Linked DNA regions of Homo sapiens: region 2 is linked to region 1. The links come from fine-mapping of genetic effects on plasma protein levels. Region 1 holds a variant in brackets. A gene starts in the other region. All regions are shown on their reverse strands.

Region 1 (8,520 bases):
TGCTTTGAGATATATAACCCTCTTGCTAAGGCATCATTGCTTTCTTCATTTGCTAGTTAGTATGATTTGATTCTGGTTACAAAACTTGTGTTTACTGTAGAATACGTTTAAAGTTGTTTTGTTGATAAGACTTCTGGAGAAACGTCTGGCCAAAAATAACTGTTTCCTGGGTTTAGAACAACAGATCCGAGACAGCTTAACCTTTGGTTATATTTCTGCTTTAATATATAGTAACATTTGAAAATACACAGATATCCAGGAAAAAAAGGTAAAGCAGTATGAGGTATTGACAGCACAACTGTGTTTTAATTTGGGAGTTAATTTGGGGTGTTATGTAACAGCAATCATACTTGTAGACAAACACATCCACTAGCTCTGCAAACACATTCAAAGGTAATAGTATATAGTACACTCCACCCTGTAAAATATGTCAAATACCCCCACTCTACAAATTCACTGTGTTTCATTATTTTTTTTTTTGTTTTTATAAGAAAAGGGGCATATCATTATAATTCACAATCCAAGTCAGAGTCTTAATTTAGGTATGAAATATTACCTGCCAATTTGCTTCTCAAGCTACTTTAAAAATATATATATATTCTTTAAAGCCATTTTATGGCCATGGGAATCTAATTAATTTCATAATGATGTTGGTTGAACATGATACCAAAAAATGCAGGTATTTTCAAGAACAATAAAATAGATAACAGCATTAAAGCATAATCCTTTAAGAATTCATGAGAAAAAAAAGGATGATAAAACTTAAGCTTCTTTTTCAGATGTTTAAAAATTTCTATAAAATTCTTTGTCCCAAGATTAATCATATAACCATGGTACATAAAATATGCTAACTACATTGCCTGGTGTCAAGGTGGGAAAATCCTCTTTTATAACATAAAATCCTCTTCTAATCCATGTTGACCCAAGTCCTGGCTGTCTGAGGGCAGATTCCTGTCAAGAGACCTAAGGTTGTCATGGAAAGCATCACTTTCGTCTACTAGTTGGTAATCCTGTTCCATTTCCGTTAGGAAGCCACTCCCAGATCCTGATCCAGAGCCGGAGCCGGAGCCGAAGCCTGATCCAGAGTAGTCCTCAGAAAGTGGGAAGATACGATTCAAGTCCTGGATTCTCGTCTTTCTGAAGTATGAAAGAAAAATGGGAAAAAAACCAGTGGAGTTTGATATGTGGGAAAGATAATTATAATAGTTTTTTTAATATAAGGAGATAAATACAGCCATCTAGTTGCTCAAATTAAGAGATTTAAAAGCTTCCCAATTATTCAATGTTTTAAAATCAACAAAAAAACAGGTCAAATGTTCCTATGTGTTTGCCTATACTTATTGCACCTATCAACTTCACATCTACCTATTGCAGACTTGCATAAACAGTGTTAATTTTGTTATCACTAGCATATACATTCTATATTTGAAATTTACTTAAGAAATCATTTTAATTTTTATTTTTGGAGGCAGAGTCTTGCTCTGTTGCCCAGGCTGGAGTGCAGTGGTGCCATCTCGGCTCACTGCAACCTCCACCTCCCAGGTTCAAGTGATTCTCCTGCCTCAGCCTCCCGAGTAGCTGGGACAACAGGGGTGCGCCACCATGCCTGGCTAATTTTTGTATTTTTAGTAGAGATGGAGTTTCACCATATTGGCCAGGCTGATCTCAAACTCCTGACCTTGTGAACCACCCACCTCCCAAAGTGCTGGGATTACAGGTGTGAGCCACTGCACCCGGCCCAAGAAATCATTTTTAAAAGAAGTCCTCTTGGCCGGGTGTGGTGGCTCATGTCTGTAATCCAAGCACTTTGGGAGGCCAAGGTGGGTGATCACTTGAGGTCAGGAGTTCGAAACCAGCCTGACCAACATAGTGAAACCCGGTCTCTACTTAAAATACAAAAATTAGCCAAGTGTGGTGGTGCATGCCTGTAATCCCAGCTACTCGGAAGGCTGAGGTGAGAGAATCGCTTGAACCCAGGAGGCGGAGGTTGCAGTGAGCCGAGATCGCGCCACTGCACTCCAGCCTGGGTTACAAGAGCAAAACTCCATACCCTCCACCAAAAAAAAGAAAGGACAAACAACTAACAACTAAGTCAGCCCAAACAGATGACATTTTTTCCTAAATTAAAATTTCCATAAAAGTTCTAACAATTTACAGGGCTTCAACAAAGCTCACTTTTGAGAAATTCTTTGTAAAAAGCTAAGCTTTATATTTACCAGCATATAAACATTCAATTTCCTATCAAAAAATGACCCTGCCTCCAACTTGCACTCATTCAGCTGAAGAGTGCTGAAAGGTAAGGCTGCCTTCTGGGTTGAGTGTGATGATTAGAAATTCAAAGAGCACAAAATGGCCAGAGCAATGACGACAGCCCTCGGTGACAGAACAGGGCAACAAAGCATCAGAGACAAAAGCTGAGTGTCACAGCCTACAAGTCATTTCCTCCATGAAAATAATAAACCACCAGCATACAACCAATTAGAGTTTTAATTCATGTACGCATTCAATAAATATTTGTTGAATATCTGGTCCTTGTTTTGAGGGCCTGGGATAGAACAGAGGCAGATCGATGAAGCCCCTTCTCAAGAAGTTTTTATTTTAGTGGGGAAGACAGACAATGAAAAGTGAATAAATAAATCAGGAAAATCATAGGTGGCACAGAGAAATGAAATTGACCAATGTAATAGGGAGTGACCAGGTGGCTACTTTAGCCTGGGGTGTCGGAGCTAGAATCACAGATTTGGTAGTTAAACCCATGCAACCGATGGAGGTCGTCGAGAGAAAGCATGTAGATAGAGAAGGGGGCCCAGGCCAGAGCCAGGGTCACACCAACATGTTAAATACTGAGCAGAGGAAAAAGCACAACCAGAGAAGTAGGAAGAAACAGGATAAGGCAGGGCATGGAAGCCTCAAGAAAAAAGCATTTCAAGGAAGGAGTGGTCAACCATTTTTTTTTTTACAGAAAGGGCCTCCTTCTGTTGTGCAGGCTGGAGTGCAGTGGCGTGATCATGGCTCACTGCAGCCTCACCCTCCCGGACTCAAGCCATCCTCCCACCTCAGCTTCCTTTGTAGCTGGGACCACAAGCATGAGTCACAACGCCCGGCTAATTTTTCTATTTTTTGTAGATAGGGTCTCACTATGTTGCCCAGGCAGGCTGGTCCTGAACTCCTGGGCTCAAGTGATCCTCCTGCCTTGGCCTCCCGAAGTGCTGGGATTACATGCATGGCCCAGTTAGCTGTTTTTGAAGGCAATTAAGGATCAAGTAAGCTGAAAATAGAGAAGTAATCAGTGACTTTGTCAACCAGGGTGGAGTGTAGGAACAGAAGTCCAGCCACAGAGGGGGTGAGGAAAGGAGGGGGCAGGCATGGGTGGCCCTTTCAGGAGGTGTTATTGTGAAGAGGAGCAGAGAAGGGCAACCACTGGAGAAGACGCAGAGTCAAAGGAGAGATGTTGCCTAAACATAGGAGATACTAAAGTCCACCCCTATACTGATGGGAAGAAGACACTGAGTTCAGAGAGA[T/G]AACTGCAGAATGGAAGTCCTGGAGAAGATGCATGGGAAAAGGATACCAGCCACAAAGAGAGGTGGCCTTGGAAGCTGCAACAGCCAGGGTCCAATCAGGAAACTTCTCCAGATATTTAACACAGAGGGAATTCCTCATACAGGTGATGGAGGAGAAGTGAAGCTAAATGGGGGATAGCGAGGTAACCCAGAGATTAGCAATAGCAAGAAAATATTTCCTTCGGCCAGGCACAGTGGCTCATGCCTGTAATCCCAGCACTTTGGGAGGACGAGGCAGGCAGATCATTTGGGGTCAGAAGTTCAAGACCAGCCTGGTCAACATGGCAAAACCCCGTCTCTACCAAAAATACAAAAATTAGCTGGGCATAGTGGCACACCCTGGAGGCTGAGGCAGGAGAATCACTTGAACCCGGGAGGCAGAGGTGGCAGTGAGCTGAGATCGCACCACTGCACTCCAGCCTGGGCAACAAGAGTGAGACTCTGTAAAAAAAAAAAAAAAAAGAAAGAAAGAAAGAAAAAAATACTTCCCTCCTTGGGCTACAGCGATAGTGGAAGGAGGTTGTCTATTTCCTGAGCCCAGGGACTAGAGGCATCTGGTGGGAGCTGAGGCCATGGGCAAAACAGAGTCCTGCCCAAGGTGCCATCCCAGGCAGGGAGTAAGGAGAAGAAACATACCTCTCTCCCTTCCTCCCAAGCTCTCAGTCTCCCGTCCTTGCCTCCCATTGGCCAAAGTCAGCCACAGCCCTGGGAGCCTGAGAAATGCAGACGCCAGGGGTCAGTTCCACCGCCACCCCCACCCCACAGCCAATACAGAGCAGGGCCAGGGAAGGACAGGAGGATCTGAGGGCAAAAGGGTTTGGGATCAGCACAGAAGCAAGGACCATTCTTTCGCAATGACGGGAAAGAAAGCACAGGGTCAGGGTGAGAAGCAGTTACTGGCTTTGGGGAAGGAAAATAGAGATTTGAGAAGAGGAGGAATGGTGTGCAAGAGTTCTTTTGGAGAATTTGAGCTATTCTCTTAACATTTTATTTTATTTTTTAATTTTAGTTTTAATTGTATTTATTTATTTTAAATGTGTTTATTTATTTTGAGACAAGGTTTTAGTCTGTCACCCTGGCTGGAGTGCAGTGCCACACCATGGCTCACTTCAGCCTTGACCTCTCAGGATCAAGCAATCCTCCCACCTCAGCCTTTCGAGTAGCTGGACCACAGGCATGCATGGCTAGTTTTTGTGTCTTTCTATAGAGACGAGGTTTCTCCATGCTTGGCTAATTTTTGTATTTTTCTGTAGAGACAGGATTTCTCCATGTTACCCAGGCAGGTCTCAAAGCAATCTGCCTGCCTTGGCCTCCCAGTCTGCCTGCCTCGGCCTCTCAATAGCTGGGATTACAGGCGTGCCACCATGCCCAGCTAATTTTTGTATTTTTAGTAGAAATGGGTTTCCGCCATGTTGGCCAGGCTGATCTTGAACTCCTGACCTCAAGCTATCCGCCTCGGCCTCCCAAAGTGTTGGGATTACAGGCGTGAGGCACAGCGCCGGGCCACTAATTTTTAGAGATGGGGTCTTGCCGTGTTGCCCAGGCTGGTCTCAAATTCTTGGCCTCAAGTGATTCTCCCACCTCAGTCTCCCAAACTGGGGGGATTACAGGCATGAGCCACTGCAGCCTAACATTTTAGATTTAAATGAATTACTATTGAAACCAATGATTTAAAGTAATGAAGGATGCTGTAATATTACATTCAAACTTAATGCTGAGGCTTTAAAGTAAGAATGCAAGAGTAGGACTACAAAGTTGCATATTGAAGATTGTAATGATGTCATCACTAATGCAGTGAATACCAGTGATGGAGAAAGTCACCAGTGATGGAGAAAGTCACCAGCGCTGGGAATGGTGGCTCATGACTGTAATTCCGGCACTTTGGGAGGCTGAGGTGGGAGGACTGCTTGAGTTTAGGAGTACATGACCAGCCTGGGAAATGTACAGAGACCCCTGTCTCTACAAAAAAAAATTTTTTTAATTAGATGGGCATGGTGCTGTGTGCCTGTGGTCCCGCTACTTGGGAGGCTGAGGCAGGAAGATCACTTGAGGAGTTCGAGGCTGCAGTGAGCTATGATCACACCACTGCACTCCATCCTGGGTGACAGAGGAGACCCTGTCTCAAAAAAAAAAAAAAACAAAAGAGAAAGTTGCCAGGATCCCAAAGTGATGTGAAATGTACCTGGTTTGGAGCATGATGATTAACCCTGGCTTTGAGGAGAGTGATTTTCTAGGTTTGAGCCTGGAGATTAAAACTTTTATGATAATCCTTTTCTTAATATGTATATTTTGCTACATCCTACATAGCTTTAGTATTCATTGAATTAATGGTTTCTAATATAATTCAATTTTTTGTTACTTATGAATTTATATCAGGTCTTTTTTGCAAGTTTAAAGCAAGTTTTATGTGATCAAAAGAAGAGATTTGATTTTTGTTTTACAAGTCTTGGCTAATTATTCTTCCTTTCCCTAATTTTTTTTTTCTTTTTTTGAGACAGAGTCTTACTCTGTTGCCTAGGCTGGAGTGCAATGGCATAAATAGGGTTCACTGCAGGCTCAACATAGGCTCAAGAGATTCTCCTACCTCAGCCTCCCGAGTAGCTGGGACCACAGGTGCACATCACTATGCCTAGCTAATTTTTGTATTTTTTGTAGAGACAGGGTCTTGCTGTATGGCCCAGGCTGGTCCCAAACCTCCTGGGCTCAAGGGATCCTCCCACCTCAGCCTCCCAAGGTGCTGGGATTACAGGCATGAGCCTCTGCACCTGGCCATTTTTAAAAATAATTACCAACTACTTGAAGAACATTTTTTTAATATAAAAAATGTATTTGAAATAGAGATAGGGTCTCACTATGTTGCCCAGGCTGGCCTCAAACTCCTGGGCTCAAACAATCCTCCCGCCTCGGCCTCCCAAAGTGCTGGGATTACAGGCATGAGCCACCACACCTGGCAGAAGAACATTTTAATCACCTCCTCCAAAAAAAACCCTCATACCCATTAGCAGTCACTCCTTATTCCTCCCTTTCCCCAGCCCCTGTAACCCACTAATCTACTTTCTGCCTCTAGGGATTTGCCTATTCTGGACATTTCATCTAAATGGAATCATACAATATGTGGCTTTTGGTGTCTGGCCTTCCTTCACTCTGCATAATGTTTCCAAGGTTTATCTATGTTGTAGCATGTATCAGTACTTCATTCTTTTTATGACCCAATAATATTCCTTTGTATGCTTATACCACATTTTGCTTATCCATTCAGTTAATTATTGGATTTTTATATATAGTGTGTTCTGTTTACACAAATAAAACAATGTTCAATCATTTTCAATACCTGTTGATGAAAAGTCCTCAATGCTCCTCTCTACCATCCACAAAAAAAATTTCAAAAACATAGGTGAATCATGTATACTCGCACATGTCATATGCCAGTATATACAGTACACTTTTACCATGTACTGCAGAGTAAGAGCCAAACTACCAAAGCAAGAGCTCGAAGCAAAACACTCTGGACAGCTTGAAGAAAAACACTCCCACATCTGTGCCAAGAGGTTGTGAAATTACAGACACTTTAAAATTAGAGAAAAGGCCGGGTACAGTGGCTCATGCTTGTAATCCCAACACTTTGGGAGGCCAAGGTGGGTGGATCACCTGAGGTCAGGAGTTTGAGACCAGCCTGGCCAAGATGATGAAAGCCCGTCTCTACTAATAATACAAAAAATTAGGCCAGGCGCAGTGGCTCACGCCTGTAATCCCAGCATTTTGGGAGGTCAAGGCGGGCGGATCACTAGGTCAGGAGATCGAGACCATCCTGGCTAATAAGGTGAAACCCCGTCTCTACTAAAAATACAAAAAAATTAGCCGGGCGTGGTGGCGGGTGCCTGTAGTCCCAGCTACTCGGGAGGCTGAGGCGGGAGAATGGCGTGAACCCAGGAGGTGGAGCTTGCAGTGAGCCGAGATTGCGCCACTGCACTCCAGCCTGAGCGACAGACTGAGACTCCGTCTCAAAAAAAAAAAAAAAAATTAGCTGGGCATGGTGGCAGGCGCCTGAAATCCCAGCTGCTCCAGAGGCTGAAGCAGGAGAATCGCTTGAACCCAGGAGGCGGAGGTTGCAGTGAGCTAAGATTGCGCCATTGCACTCCAGCCTGGGCAAGAAAAGTGAAACTCCGTCTCAAATAAATAAGTAATTAATTAATTAATTAGAGAAAAGTCCACTTACGGAAAAAGGTCAGTCCTCAGACGGGGGATCTTGTTGGATTCACCTGGAAGTAGTTCGAACATTGGTCCTTTTTCTTCAAGGCAGTTTGCAGAATTACTGTCTGGATTGCAGCGCACCCATTGGTACCTGGCTCTCCGCGTAGGATAACCTGCCCGAGGAACCCACATTGTTACTAAGTATCTACTACACAGCTTCTAATCACTCTGTCCTAAGAAGTTTTTATTTTTATTTTTTTTTCGAGACAGGGTCTCAGTCGGCTGCCCAAGCTGGAGTGCAGTACTGTGATCATAGCTCACTGCAACCTTGAACTCCTGGGCTCAAGCCATTCTCCCACCCCAGCCTCTTGAGTAGCTGGGAATACAGGGGCACCACAACGCCCAGCTAGTTTTGTTTTGTTTTTGTTTGTTTGTTTGTTTTTTGGAGAGATGGGGGTCTCACTATGTGCCCAGGCTGGTCTCAAACACCTGGGCTCAAGCAGTCCTCCTGCCTTGGCCTCCCAGTGTGCTGAGATTACAGGAATGAGCAACTGCACCCCACCCGCCCTAAGAAGGTTTTAACTAAATAGATTCTAAATTTGGTAAAAGGCAAAATGTAGACAGATTTTGTGCCCATTCATATAACAGCAGCACCCACTATGTGCCAACATTTTATATAAATTGTCCTTCTTACAACACTCCAAAAAGTAGCAGTTTAAAGTTAGAATAGGCTTTGGAATCAGCTGCCTGGAGTGAAGTCCCAGGTCTG
Region 2 (3,484 bases), not on the chromosome of region 1:
CCTTTTCCTGACTTAGTATCTCAAAACAGGTCCCCTGCCCCTAGCATAGTTGCGCCTCTTTATTGGCCACGCCCCCCAGCCTCCACGCCTTAGATCGCGCAGCACCCTGGACCACGCCTTTTTCAAGTCTAGCTTTCTATGGGCGGCCCCGCCTCTCCCGTTCGGCCCCGCCCACCTGTCTGCAGTACTCCAGCACGCGCTGCGGGTCCCGGAGACAGCGTCGAGAGCGCTGTGGGTCTGGTTCCCAGCGGCCGGTGCGCAGGTCCCGGTGAAGGGTTAGGCGCCCGCATAGTCCAGCCACCTGGGCCGACCCCGGGGCCTGGATGGAAGTGGAAAGGACAGTGAGGGCTCGGGGGGCGTTGGCATGAGGGTCCCCTGGTTCTTTGCTCCCTAGGACCGAGACCCCCAGCACCAGCCCCCTCCCCCAAGCACCGCACACCGCCTCCATGGAGGCACCGTTCCCTGGGAAACAGCTCCCGTAGGGCGGGGGCGCCCCAGCGCTCCCGTTGCTATGGCGACCTGGGTCCCCCGGGATTCTTTCTGCCTTGTTGCCGCGGAGACAGACTCCGCCCCCACCCCAGCGCAGCCGCTCTGGAGCCCGAAGGGGTTAAACCTGAATCGCGGAGGAGGAGGCCAGAACCCAGGAGTTCTGGCCCCTCCTCCCTCCATCCCTTGCTCAGGCTCCCGTTGCAGGATGCAAAGCTGACAAGGCCTGGCTTCAGGGGCCTACAGTCCTGGACACCAGGTCCTTGAGGACTGGAGAGCTACATCTGGTTGGGGTGGGTGGTGACTGAAGGACTGGACTCCTGGGTCCTGGGAGGCTGCAAGGGCCTCCATATGGGTCCAGAGAATACAAGGGGTCTGGATTATTGGATCTAAATGCCTCGCTGCTTGGTGGGTCCTATGTCCAGGCGGGAGGGGGTTGGGGCCGAGTCACCTGGGTCTGGAGAGGGGGCTGGACTTCTGGGACCAGGGGCTCTGAATAGACCAGTTCCTATGCTCGAGATGGGAGGGGGCTGGGACGTCGCATGATGGGGGAGCTGGGGCCTGGAACCCTGGGTTCATAAATGTGATTGGGGGCGCCTGGGGGCTGACCACCTGGCTGGAAAGACCGCGCTTTCTGCCCTGGACATGTCCGCGCCGGCGTCCAGAGACCCGGTCCCGCCCCTTCCCCCATCCCCCAGGACCCGGCCCGGCCTCACCTCGGCCGCGCCGGGGCTCCCACCGGCCAGGCTCCCGATGGCGGGCTGCGCGCGCAGAAGCAGCAGCAATAGTGGCAGCAGCAGCGGCAGCGGCGGCTGGCCCGGGCGGCGACTTAGACCGCGAGCAGCGGGGCTGGCGGGCCCCATGTCCCGGCCCTTGCGCCCTCACGTCCCCTGCACTCCCGCCCGGCCCGGCCCCAGCGGTGACAGGAGCTCCCAGCGCCACCGCCGCCACCTCCTCCTCCCGCCGCCCCCGGGCTGCGCCGGCGCCGCCAGCCCCGCCCCGCGCCGGCCCCGCCTTCCTGGTCAGGACAATAGCGTGGCGGCTTCGCGCAGAGTGGAGCAGCTCGGGAACCCCGGGCGGGAGCCTGCGCCAGGCCCCCGCCCCTCGAGATTCCAGGCGTCCCGCCCCATGAAGGGCCCAGCCAGGAGTCCGGCTATGGGCTCCGCCCGTTGTGGATTTTGAGTCCTCCCGCAGGACTCTCACCCTCTTTAGACCCAGACACTCACAGTTTTGTCCTTTTCCAAGGATGCAAGCATCAGAGACCCCCATCCCCTAGTACATTCCTCTGTTGAGGGCTCAGGAATACAGGCCTCCAAAATGTCCCCAGTCAAGAAGGCAGCAGTTGAGACCTAGTCCCTTCCTCTTTCAGATCCAGAAGTCTGGGCACCTTCTCTCTCAGGACCAGAGACCAAGCCCCCAGCCCATTCTCCTTCAGACCCAGGAGTTCACTCTTCTTGCTCTGCTTCCCAAGGGTCCCAGGGGCCTGGACCTTTAACTCCTAGCTCAAGGATCCATGAACCAAAGCCCCCAGGACCTTTCTTTAAGGATCATCCAAGCAGGCACCAGCACCATGCCCACTGTGGATGCAGCACCTCAGGATTAGGGTCTGGATCTCCACGCTTGCTGTAAGGACCAGGGGATTGCCATTTTCCTACCCATAGTCTCCCCTTCCCTGCTCCACTTCAGGGCTCACTTGTTTGTCTCCTCTAATGAGAGTTAGAATTCAGTCTTCCCCAGGACCCCTGGGGCAGCCCTGTCACTTGTGTGCAACTGTGTGGACATCTATGCGTGTGTCTGTGCATACATGCCTATGTGTGTGTCTTTTCTGTTTGCAACTCATGTGTGTGTGTGCGTGTGTGTGTGTGTGTGTGTGTGTGTGAAGATGTATATTAAAAGAGCCCATGGCTGGGCACAGTGGCTCATGCCTGTAATCCCAGCACATTGGGAGGCCTAGGTGGGCGGATCACTTGAGGTCAGGAGTTTGAGACCAGCCTGGCCAACATGGTGAAACCCTGTCTACAAACAAATACAAAAATTAGCTGGGTGTGGTGGCATGCACCTGTAGTCCCAGCTACTTGGGAGGCTGAGGTGGAAGGATGGCTTGAGCCCAGGATGCAGAGGTAGCAGTGGGCTGAGATCATGCCACTGCACTCCAATGTGGGCCATAGAGCCAGATCTTGTCTCAAGAAAAAAAAAAAAAGAGCCTAGAGTGCTTTGCAGGTAGCAAGAGGCTGAGAGGTGGCTCACAGTTTTACTCCTACAGCCACCTCATAGGCTAGGGTAGAGGAGGGACCTTGGGACAGGTCTAAGGGACCCCTTCCTTGGTGGAGAGTGATAATGCCAGTAGACTCCCTAAGACACACTTGCCTCTTTGACTTTTTTTTATTATTAAACATAAATATTTTTATCCCAATATTTTGCCCCAACAGTGGTAATTCTCACTGTATCCCCACTCCTTGGGTCCAAGTCTTTCTGAGTCTTTAAGGAAAGTAAAATCAAGATGGTGGCCATCTTGGGTTCCTAGGGAGTATATGGCCATCTTGGCTGCATTTCCATTGGCCGAGCAAAGTTCCCCTCAGGGAGAGCCAGGGTGGGGCCTGGTATGCTCTTCATCTTCATCTATCCTATGCTACCTTTCCTCTCAATGCAGATGGTCATCTTGAAATATCTTCTTTCAGTGGCTAGAAACAACTTCCATCCCGGCCCCAAACTCCCAACACCCACTGCCCTGTCCCCATCTCTCCTCAAAGGGCCTACCTGCCATCTTGAATCTCTTTTACACCGGGGAATAGGTGGGCATATTGGGTGGCCATGTTGCTCCCACTTGGGGCATCTCCTTTGGCTGAGCTGACTGTATACAAATGCTCCTGACAAATGTAATGATCTTTCCCTCCCCTTGTGTTCAGTTTTGGAGGAGTAAGGTCGCCAACTTGTCCTGGCTCCTCAGAAATCAGAACAATCCATTATGGCAAGTTGGAGATCCCAGGACTCTTCCATT

Alleles and levels. Alleles are on the strand shown, and positions count from the first base shown. The strength of an association depends on the size of the effect and on how common the allele is.
In carriers of allele G in region 1, the plasma level of the protein whose gene starts at base 1,412 in region 2 tends to be higher than with T alone (weak association).

What was found. A credible set is the group of variants that fine-mapping cannot tell apart. PIP is the chance, under the fine-mapping model, that this variant and not a neighbour inherited with it causes the effect. The UK Biobank Pharma Proteomics Project read protein levels with antibody pairs (Olink). The fine-mapping took linkage between variants from a reference panel, not from the people measured, so its PIPs are less certain.
Region 2: APLP1 starts here. The variant in region 1 is the best candidate, but not a certain one, in a credible set for the plasma level of the APLP1 protein (UK Biobank, PIP 0.56).

What each region holds. Positions count from the first base shown.
Region 1 is chr10:69,096,488-69,105,007 of GRCh38, reverse strand. SRGN (serglycin) reads right to left here. Exons shown (of 3, transcript NM_002727.4): 2 at 7,777-7,924; 3 at 203-1,137. The coding sequence ends at 888. Among named protein-coding and RNA genes, the nearest start is that of SRGN, 13 kb to the right of the region's middle. The variant T/G (reference allele first, on the strand shown) is at 3,522.
Region 2 is chr19:35,866,502-35,869,985 of GRCh38, reverse strand. APLP1 (amyloid beta precursor like protein 1) reads right to left here and starts at 1,412. Exons shown (of 17, transcript NM_001024807.3): 1 at 1,203-1,412; 2 at 176-319. The coding sequence starts at 1,349. It overlaps KIRREL2 (kirre like nephrin family adhesion molecule 2), which reads right to left. Exons shown (of 15, transcript NM_199180.4): 15 at 2,850-3,484. LOC107985317 (a long non-coding RNA gene) reads left to right here and starts at 629. Exons shown (of 4, transcript XR_001753932.2): 1 at 629-894; 2 at 1,856-2,111; 3 at 3,393-3,484. RefSeq lists silencers at 1,172-1,241, 1,332-1,591.